2 separate regions of the Homo sapiens genome follow, and region 2 is linked to region 1. The links come from fine-mapping of genetic effects on gene expression. A gene starts in region 1. The other region holds a variant in brackets. All regions are shown on one strand. Distances are between the middles of the regions. Region 1 holds the start of TMPRSS5 (transmembrane serine protease 5). Region 2 overlaps LOC107984390 (a long non-coding RNA gene).

What was found. PIP is the estimated chance that this variant, and not a neighbour inherited with it, causes the effect.
Region 2: its variant is the best candidate, but not a certain one, in a credible set for the expression of TMPRSS5 in whole blood (INTERVAL, PIP 0.59).

Annotation. Positions count from the first base shown.
Region 1 is chr11:113,703,286-113,708,664 of GRCh38, reverse strand. TMPRSS5 (transmembrane serine protease 5) reads left to right here and starts at 2,357. Exons shown (of 13, transcript NM_030770.4): 1 at 2,357-2,443. The coding sequence starts at 2,441.
Region 2 is chr11:113,675,397-113,680,775 of GRCh38, reverse strand. The region is part of intron 1 of LOC107984390 (a long non-coding RNA gene); the gene reads left to right. Among named protein-coding and RNA genes, the nearest start is that of TMPRSS5, 28 kb to the left of the region's middle. The variant G/T (reference allele first, on the strand shown) is at 2,577.

The DNA.
Region 1 (5,379 bases):
CTCCAGGCAAGCTTTGAGACAGGTGAAATAAAGACAGTCTTGCAAATGGTATCTTCCAGGGAACCACTAGACAGGTCAAATAATTACAACTCTCTGGGAATGAGGCTTTGAAGGAACTCCAAGGCTGTTCTACCCCTTCTTGTAGCTGCCAGGCTGCTGGTTTCCATGATGATTGTGGTTTGTTGGTTTTCAAAGCTACTGCAGAGTTGGGGTGAGGGGGATGGAATTGGAGCAAGTTAAAATGCCACAAGGCTCACTCTTCTTTCTATAATTATGTCATTTTTTTTCTTGAACGAAGACTTCCCAGATTGCTATAAACTTTTGATTAATTTCCAGAGTTCTGAAAAAATTGATTCTCACCATTTTTTGCCATTTTTCTCATTGCTTTTAGGGGGGAGGAAATTTTCAGAGGATTTTACTCCTACCATTTTCATTGACATTACGTGCAATATATTTTAATTACCCTTCTTTGTGATTGCTTTGTCACTTCTCAAAACTCAGTTCAAATGTCTCCTCCATTGCAAAGCCCTCTTCTTTGTATCCTCAGGGCAGCTATTCCTCTATTCTCCTATACCTCTGGGTTTATGTCTTTGTTATTTCACTTTTCATAATAACAGTTACTTACATCTGTTTCTATCCCTTTTTCCAGTCTGTAAGCACCCAGTCTGTGACTTGTTCATCCTCCATGCCCAGGCTAGTTTCTGACACACGGTAGATATTCAGGTTTGTAGTCTGAAGAGTATTGTCCTAGGAGACCTCAGAGCCTAGCCAAGGGCTTCTGAGTTCCAGCCACCATTTCTCTCCTTCTTCTATAATTCACAGCTGACCTCTATCTCTTCATTGTCTTATGTGTGCTCTGGTGTGATGAGAGTAAGTTCAGAATTGACACACTGAGTGTATGATATGGTTTGGATCTGTGTCCCAACCCAAATCTCATGTCAAATTATAATCCTCAATGTTAAAAGTGGACTCTGATGGGAGGTGATTTGATCATGGGAGTGGATCCTTCATGATCAAGAAACCTTCATGATTCATCATCCACTTGGTGCTATTCTCGTGATAGAGTTCTCATGAGATCTGGTTGTTTAAAAGTGTGTGGCACCTCCCCCTTCTCTCTCTTGCTCTTGCTCCTGCCATGTTAGAGGCCTTGCTCCCCCTTTTTCTTTCACCATGATTGGAAGCTTCCTGAGGCCTCCCCAGAAGCAGAAGTCACTGTGCTTCCTGTACAGCCTGTGGAACAGTGAGAACTTCTTTTCTCTTGAAATTGTCCAGTCTTAGGTATTTATTTATAGCAGTGCAAGAATTGACTAATACAGTGTATGAGGAAAATAGGGAGCAAAAAGTTAAATCCTGTGTGGGTGACATTCAGCAACAACAACAACAACAACAACAACAATAATAATAGCAGCTACTGTTTGCTGAATACAGTCTGTGCTAGACACCAGGCTATGGGCTTTATAGGCAATATCTCAATGAATTCTGACATCAACCCTATGAGGCATGTACTATTATCCTCATTTTACAGGTGAGGCTGAGTAAGGGAAGTGGGAGAACTGAGGTTGGATGAAGGCCTGACTCTAAAGCCTATATTCTTAACTGTCCCTTCTGAGGGGTTTTTGAGCAGCCAGTTGGAGGAAAGGAAGCCCCACCTGTGTTTGCCTTCCCCAGGACCTATTCTGCCTCCTTGTCTAAAGAGATGTGCCTGCTCCCAGGTGTGTTTAGCCCCGTGTGGGCTCACTTGGGTCACCTTGTGCTTTGAAACAAGATAGCACTGAGGGCTCCTGCTGCAACTGGCTCCCAGGGCAGACAGGGGTAGAGGCCCCACTTCCCTGGCATTGGGGAGACAGATGTGGCCCTCGGGCAAGAGGTGACAAAGATCTTCCATCATCACCCCAACAATTCCAACATGGTGACAGCCCCAGACTGCTAGAAAAGCCAACCCACATGGAGGCGAGATAAAATCCAGAGGGCTCAGAAACATTTCAACAAATGCTAATATCGGTCTCTCCAATACAGCTCTGTCAGCAGGAAGGGAGAATTCTGCCAGCATGCATGCATGGGGCACACTTTTTGGCACAAGGGACCTTGTTGCTAAGCAACAGTAGTTGGCCTCCCCTCCTCCCCATAACCTTTTCCTCTGTTTCTGAGTTTCCAGTTAGCAGATGGGAGGGGCTGGGGTTGCCTAGCCCAGCCCAGCCCTTGTCCCCCTTTCCTGCAACAAGGGGCCTATTCATGGGTCCTCAGCAGAGTTCATTGTCTCTGTGGCGCGTGTCTGTGTGAGTGTTGGAGTAGGGATACAGGGAGGGGCCATGTGCGAACCAGGGAGACCTCATCTTCCAACCAAGCTTGCTGGGCTAGCTTTAATCAATGCTGGCCTGAGAACAGGAGCGGAACATTGCCTAGTAGACCCTGAGGCTTTACAACAGTGCCACTGACCCCTATGGTAAGGTTACGTCTCTGTGCCATCCCTGCTGTGGCCTCTCTCTCTTTCTTTCTCTCTCCCTCCTCTGCCCTTGGGATTCTAGGCTGGTGGAAAGAGCCTCCTGAGGCAGCTCTGGTACAGGGGCTGGATCCTAGCAGGGGCCCTGTGTGGCCAATTTCCTGTTTCCTCCCCAGGGACTGCCCTTTATTATCCTCTTTCATCCCTCTTAGATCTATCAAGTGCTTTGCACATATGTGGTGCTCAACAAATCGTTATTACGTTGAACTTCCACTCAAAAAGAGGAGCAAGGAGTCCTGTAATTTTAAAGGCCATTTTTTTTTCTAGGCTAGCACATGAGCTTGGGCAGTTGAATTTTGAGGTGGAGCAGTACATGAGGTGAGGCCAGTTTATTCAGAGGCTGGGTTTAAAGCCAAGCTTCCTTGGTACTGAGGCAGAAGAAAAGACTGGCCATGCCCTGGAATTCTCTCTAGATCAGGCCTGCCTCTCCACTCAGAGGGACATCAGCTCAAGAGCAATCACACAACCCCAGAGAAGAAATCCAAACCTCACCTTCTGTTGCTGCTTCTCTACTATCTTATGGGTGCTTGACTGGCTCTCCCAAGCCTGCTGTCCTGCAGCCTCACTGCCTGTGTCCTGTGAGTCTCATCTGTAGGCACAAGAAAGAATGTGTGTGGTTTGATACAAACCATGACCTCTGTTTCTCCTGGAAAAGCAAGGCCTGCAGCTCTTGGGAGGTCCAGTCCTATAGGTCCTGGGCTGTGGCTGGTGTAGGGAATAGGGAGGTGGGGCTGGTACCTCTTTCTATAGGCAAGATGTTGGGGCTGCTGCGCTGTCTGTGAGCTGAACTGGCATGGGTGCTCTGGGTCCAGTGGAATGATTTTCGGGGCAATTTGGAGGTGACTGACCTAGGTGAGTCTGACAAAGTCTTTCCTTCCTCCTGCTGGAGGGTTAGGAAGACAGTTCAGTGGAGTACGAAGGCATGACTGGGGAGGTTTTGGCGTGAAAAGAACATTTCATGTGACACATGAAAATCACATTTAAGCCAATACTGTCCTGGAGTCAGCATTTCAGGCTTTTATCCTCATTGGGTACAACCCTATGTGTTGACAGGGAAAGATGCAGGGGAGACAGTAGTCTGCAGGGGAAACGGGAGTTGCTTCAGTTTTGAGAGATCTTATCTACCCTACTGGATTATAAATTTTGGGGGGAAGGATCCACAGCTTAGGTGTAGTTCTTATTAATATTATTATACTTAACATTTGTATTGGGCTTTACAATTTTTAAAGTCATTTTAATTCACATTATCTTATTTGTACCTCCCCCTCTGTCTCTCCCTCCCCCCTCCCTTCTTTCCTTCCCTCCTTTAATGTACTTTAACTGAATTCCCACTTTGTGCCAGGCTCTGTGCTTAGCCCTGGGATGCAAAAACCAGTGAGAAAGGAGAGAGAAGGAAGTAAATGAGCACAATATAGGGCCCAACAGGTGCTGTATGCATAGAAGGAAGCTTCCTGGAGAAGTGATGTCTGTGCTGAGTCTCGAAGGGTCAGTTGGAGTCAGTTACATGGGAAAGGGGAGAGCAGATGCAAAGTCTCTCTGTTGTGAGAGTGCCTGAAGGCACTGAAGTATGGCACGTATGTCAGTGTGATCCCAAATTTTGCTGTGGAGGGAGCAAGTGCTGGCAGTGAGGATGGAGAGGTGAGGCCAGGCGAGATCATGGAGGACTTTGTGAGCGATGCCATGGAGCTCCTGTTTGATCCTGAAGGCCACAAAGACTCATGGGGTAGAGATGGGGCTCACATGCTCATATTTGCATTTTAGAAAGATTACTCTGACTTTATGGCATGGAGAATAACAGAGAGAGACAAGATACTCGAGGAGGGAGATTATTCCTTGGAAAGCAGGAGTTATTACTCTTATTTTACAAATGAGAAAATTGAAATTTGAAGAGATGGCCTGAGTTGTCCAAGTTCACATAGTAGGTTGCAGACTTAGCTTTGAACTGTCTGGTGTTTTTTTTAAGATCTTATTTTCATTACTCCTCTTCATGGCTCATGAGCTGCAGACACACATATGACATACTCTGCTCTATGCTTTCTTATCCCTTTGCCTTTGCTGATTCAATCCTCTTTGTCTGGACTGCCCAATGCCCATTATATCAGCTCAAACCCTCTTCATCCCTGTGGGCCTGTCTCAGAGGCTGCTTTTTCTAGGAAGCCTTCTGTGATCACCTCAATGAGAAGTAAGCCCTTATTCTTTTGAATGATGATGGTAGTGTATTAGTCTGTTCTCACACTGCTATGAAGAACTGCCTGAGACTGGGTAATTTATAAAGGAAAGAGATTTAATTGACTCATAGTTCTGCATGGCTGGGGAAGCCTCAGGAAACTTATGATCATGGTGGAAGGGGAAGCAAACACACTCTTCTTCACATGCTGGCAGGAGAAAGAAGTGCAGAGTAAAGGGGGAAATCCCCTTATAAAACCATCAGATCTTGTGAGAACTCACTCACTATCATGAGAATAGCATAGGGGAACTGCCCCCATGATCCAATCACCTACTATGAGGTCCCTCCCCCAGTGCGTGGTAATTACAATTCAAAATTACAATTCAAAATGAGATTGTGGGTGAGGGGAGAGCCAAATCATATCATTCTATCCTGGTCCCTTCCAAATCTCATGTCCTCATTTCAAAACACAATCATGCCTTTCCAACAGTCCCCCAAAGTCTTAACTCGTTCCAGCATTAACCCAAAAGTCCAAGTCCAAAGTCTCATTTGAGACAAGGCAAGTCTCTTCTGCCTATGAGCCTGTAAAATCAAAAGCAAGTTAGTTACTTCCTAGATACAATGGGATACAGGCATTGGGTAAATACACCTATTCCAAATGGGAGAAATTGGTCAAAATAAAGAGGTTACAGTCCCCATGCAAGTCTGAAAT
Region 2 (5,379 bases), 28 kb after region 1:
AGCCTATCCCCTCATACACATGCTTACATACCACCTGGACACTTTACCTGGCAGGCAGGATCATAAATCCGACAAAGAATTCATTGCAATGGTCCTATACAAGCAATAGAGACCTATAGTAGTAGGTGTGTGTGTAGGGGTCATTTCTCCACAGAGTCTTCTGACGTTTGGGTCATCCTCTCTCAAGACTCCTCCAGGCTCACATTTATGGGGTCCAGACAAGAGTGTGGATAGAGGCCCGTATACCACATGTCTAAATAGTTCAGAGTAATACATCACCCTAACACACTGTTAAACTAAAAACGTTCTATCTTCCTACCATAAAAAATAGACCATATAAAAATATGGAAGGTCAGATCCAAATTTTGAATCCTTGAATTTTTGGATTCTGTCCTGGAGCTTGGTTGATGAAGAGAGTAGGCTTCTGGCCACCTTTTCTCCCCACGCCCTCAGCTAAGGGCTGTCTGCACAGCCGTGCAGACACTCCATCCTGCTTAGGGGTATGCCCAGCAGGGGTACCTGTGCAGCCTCTGGAAGCGGGCTCAGGGACCTTGGGAATTTCAGGATCTAGAGAGAGAGAGACGCAGGTCTGGGTAGGCACAGGACGTCAACATTGCAAATTCTCCCCTTACGGTGGGTCTGGTCAAAGAAGGGCCAGGACAGCAGGGCTGGGACTAGGGTGAGGCAGGTGACGTGCCTCAGTGCAAAATTGAAGGAGGCATCACTCTCAGGGTCATACAAAGGCAGGCTGGCTCCTGCCTCACTCTGGTCTTGGCCCTGCGGGGGGCGGGCCCTCTAAAGTGAGCAGCCCGGAGCAGGAAGGGCTTCTCCCATCTGGTCTCCATGGGTATTGATGGTTACTCCTAACCGTTGGAGTGAGACAAAAAGGCAAGATGACAGAAACAGACCTCTCTCCTGTGAGTCCCTACTTCCCTAAAGCACTGTAAAGCATCCCCTGATTACATTTCAGGGAGCTCCACGTCCGCATCAGCCCAGCCACCATGGTGGTCCCTGGGCTCATTCTCTGCGGAAAAGTACCCAGAGTGATTCATTATCATCCCCACTCACATAGCCTCCTAGAAATTAATGTCGATAAACACCAAAAAAAACTCTAGTGTACAAATACACCGTACTCCAGAACTCTCGCAGGGCAGACTTCAGTGAAAACTAAGGTAAGCCAAAGCTAATTAGGAAAAAAGGGATGTGCAGGGTCAAGGAAAAGCTGTGGAAGAGGAGCTGGGCTGTGAGTCCAGATGCATTTTGGAGAGGTCTGCATTAAACTAAATCACATAGAGGTGCTCATGAAACAGCGGAGAAGGTATGGGAGTCAGTTGTGGGTGTTCTGGAGCCTGTTGAGCAGGTACTGGCTGTTCAGTGTGTGGAGGCATTCGGTGGAGTGGGGCAGGGCGGGGGGGCTGCGTGAGGAGGAGGGGAGGGTGTTTCCCCAGGAGCTGGCAAGTCTGGGTTCTAACCTGGATTCCGGTGCTTGTTGACCAGCCCAGCTAAGTCACTGGACTTTGCTGAGTTTCTATTTTCTCCTTTGCATAATGGAACTAATAATATGTCGCCTGTTTAACTTGCGGAAAAGGTGGGAAGACCAAGTAAAGTAGCAAGAAGGCTTTGAAGGTTGTGTAGGGCTAGGACAGTGTAAAAGGTTGTGGTTAACCTGTGTTGGCAAATCTGCCAGTTGTCTTGTTTATCCAATCAAACCCCATTTACTGAATGTCTCCTTGGTGCCATTCCCTATCTAATCCTTGAGCACCCAGAGATGAATGAAATATCACTACCTTCACGGAGCTTACCATCTAGTCAAAGTAGCTATATTTATTGTTTGCTGTTAGAGCACAAATATGGAATATTTTGAAAGAGTTTGCTACAATTACTTTACAACCATTTATAGATAGATGCTTGTTGACAAGAAAGAATTGATGTGGTAAATGTAAAAATTTCTCATCTACTATCAGCATGTAGCATTTTAAGAACACCAATAGAGGCAAATGGTGTTTTGATTGCAACCTCAGAAGCATGGTTTCCATACCAACCTATTTGCACAGAATAAAAAGCCCAAGGCAAAATGCTGCTTCTAATTCACGAAATGGTAGCTTTGGCTCAATCATCTCTTTAATAGAAAAGACTAAGCCATGTTCCTCCCACCACAGTGCCCCACCAAAGTGTGCAGACTTACACACACATACATATGAACTGAACACACAGTGATGGTAAACTGGGCCCTTAGAGGAATTAGACCAGGCCCTTGGCAGAATTCTGGCCCATCACCTTATGTCTCTGGTCTCAGTTACCTCATCTGTATAATAGGAGTAACGCTGCTTCACAAACGTTATTCAGTGTCACCACGCTGAAATGGAATCAAAGGTATTATTATCTTGAAAGAGCATGGAAAAGAGTAGTCATGCAGGTAGTCCAGGAACACAGCTTAATCTGGAAGGGCTATTTCTGTGATCCTGGGAGGTGGGCAGGCATGGCATGAGAGGCTTGGCTGTCACTTCCTCCCCTTCTGTCCTCTTCCCTCTTCCCTCTTTCTCCTCCCTCTCTTCCTTCTACGTTATTAAACACCT[G/T]TGTGTGCCAGAATATAAAGACAAATACATCACTACATCAGCAGAAGCTCTCAATCAGGTGGGGAACGTGGAGATGCACGCTGATGATTTCACTATAGAGCCAGGCGTAAGGCACTACAGGGGCACCAATGAGCCATGGGCTGCTTAAGGAGATGCTGCTTGAGTTGGGTCCTGACGGATGAATTTCAGAACTGAGTTGGAGTGAGGGGAGGTGGCTGGGAGCGGGAGAGAGATAAGGGCATTTGGGACCAAGGGAATAGCATGAAAATACCTGACATTTCCTAGGAAATACCAAGTAGTTCTGTGCAGCTGGAGCAGGGACTGATGCCAGGGAACAAGAGATGCCAGTGAACAGTGTGTGGGAATGAGATTGCTATGCCCTTGTCTGCCAAGCCGAGGAGTCCTCACTTTGTCTTATGGGGAATGGGAGGAGCTGCTGAAAGTTTTCAAGTAGGAGAGAGTCACAATCATAGGCGTATAATGGAGAGATTGCATTGCTCTGGGAGAGGCGTGGAGGAGGGTTTTGAGGGACACTGGCATACATTATAACAATTATAGTGGGATTTCAGACTTCTTTCAATAATAAAATATTTATTTGGAACCCTTAAACACATAAGAGATGAGAGCAGTATTTTATGAGCATGCATATATTTTGTAATTGGTGATACCTACTCTGTATCGATGTGAATGATGTTGTTTTGATGAGCACAGGAAATTGAAATCAGGGCCTATGCATCAAATTACAGAGTTGTATCAGTCTTGGCAACCAGTTTCTCTCTAGATTTTGGTTTGGGTTGCATAGCACCAAGAAATCCCGATTTATACAGTTGAGTAGTTGCAAACAGCAATAGCCTTTTCACAGCTTGACTTTTAGTCTCGGGGTAATTTTTAATTAAAACGAGAAAACTTCATTCAGAGGCCTGCATAAAAATAAGTTAATCTGGCATCCTAAGCTAATGGGCTGGTGGCCTCTATGTATCAAAATTGGGTATATACCACATTGTCATTATGGTTTGTTTAGATGGTTAAAATAAATTTTAAATGAGATTTAAATAAAATGTTTGAGAACCCCCCTAGCCATATATGAGAACTGAAGATATATGAAATTATTCCTACCTTGAGAGTGAAGGGTATTTTCTGACTTATTTGTGTCCGTCATTCACTGGGAGACCACAATTGGCCTTCACCATGGCTGACGCTGGACTGTTGGGGTTGCATTGATAAAGACTTCTTTACTGTGGCAGTTGAGGAACTTCTCTCAAAAATATTGGAAAGCGGGGTGGGGGATGACTACACTGGGCTCATCTTTCTTATAGACAGTGTGTGAAATGTGCATAATCTTGGTCATTGTCTGAACCATGACTGTGGACATTGGGGAACTCACATAAAATGTTGCTGATGTCAGGATTTTGAAAGACCCCACATCCATCTGGAAACTTCTGTCTGTGTACTCCCAGGGAGCTCCATGCAGTATAAAAGTCCATCAAGAGGAGACTGGCGAGTGCTCCTTTTACTGAGCACTTGCTATCTGCTGGGTGCTGTTTTATGCGCTTTATATGTACTGACACTTTTATTCTTCACAGCATCCCTACAAGTTGATTGCTATTATTATTTCTATTTTACAAATGAGGAAATTGAGGCACAGAAGAGGTTAAACATCTTGCCCAAGTCACACAGCTAGCAAGTGGCAGAGCTTGGATTTGAATCCAGTAGTTTGGCACTAGAACCCGAATCTCTAATTACCATGCTCTAGTGTGCTTCTTTAAGGAAAGAATTCATATTGGACCTTTGAAGTCAAATCTCTTTTAATTGGGAATGAACACTGCATTTGTGCTTTAATTGTCCCTAATCATGCCCCCAGTGCTAGTCAGAGAATGTGGGTTCTATGATGATGTTCTTATGGCGATGTTCAGGATGGGGTTTCAGTGAAATCATATAATATGCAATACCAGTGGGGAGGGGGTACTTTACATCTATTTGACATTTTTTGAAATGTACTCTCTGGAGCTGGGCTTGAGCCAGGCATTCATGACACTCTCAGGTGCCATGAAGTCAGTAAATTATCCTCGGGGTCTGTGAGCTAGGCAGTCTCTGCTTTCTCTTTTAATTGCAGGATCCAAGGTACAAAAAGGATGGAGCAGACCCAGAACAGCAAGGGTAATGCTCAGGCTCTGGGTAAGGTGTGGTCCTGGCCCCTGAATCCTTCTCAAACCCACCCTTATCTGGCATTCGTCCTTCCAAGTAGAGAGAAGCTGCCCATTTAAGCCTCCATTGTGACAGGAGGCTGAAAAGTGTAAGAGAAGGCTGGAGTGAAAGTGAATTGGCAAAGCAACTAAACTGAGAGGAAACAGCAGGGTCGGAGTAGTGACTGCAACAAAGCCAGTCTATTAATGGAAGGTCCTAAGGGACCAGGCTGGATTTTCTCAAGAATGAACACTAAGCCAAGCTGACTGAATAAATGAAGACATGTCCATCAGGGACGCACTGATTGGCAGGAGCAACATGCTGTAAAATCAAGTCACAGTCAGGGTCGAAGCTGACATGTTTGCTGAGTCTCGGAGTGGCCACCACTCCTTAAAGCTGGACAAAATTTATTTCAGGATTCACGAAAGAAATCTCCTGCTGGGGACAATTTTATGGCACTCCTTACTCTGATATTCGAACCACAGAATGAAAATAGCATCAAGAAAGGATTTAATGAGTTCTTGGAGAGTGAAGACAGAAAGGGCTTATTAAGGAAAATCAGGGAGGCCCAAAGAATTTGCCCAACTGCGTGGGAGAGCCACTGTGAAGTTCAGCATGC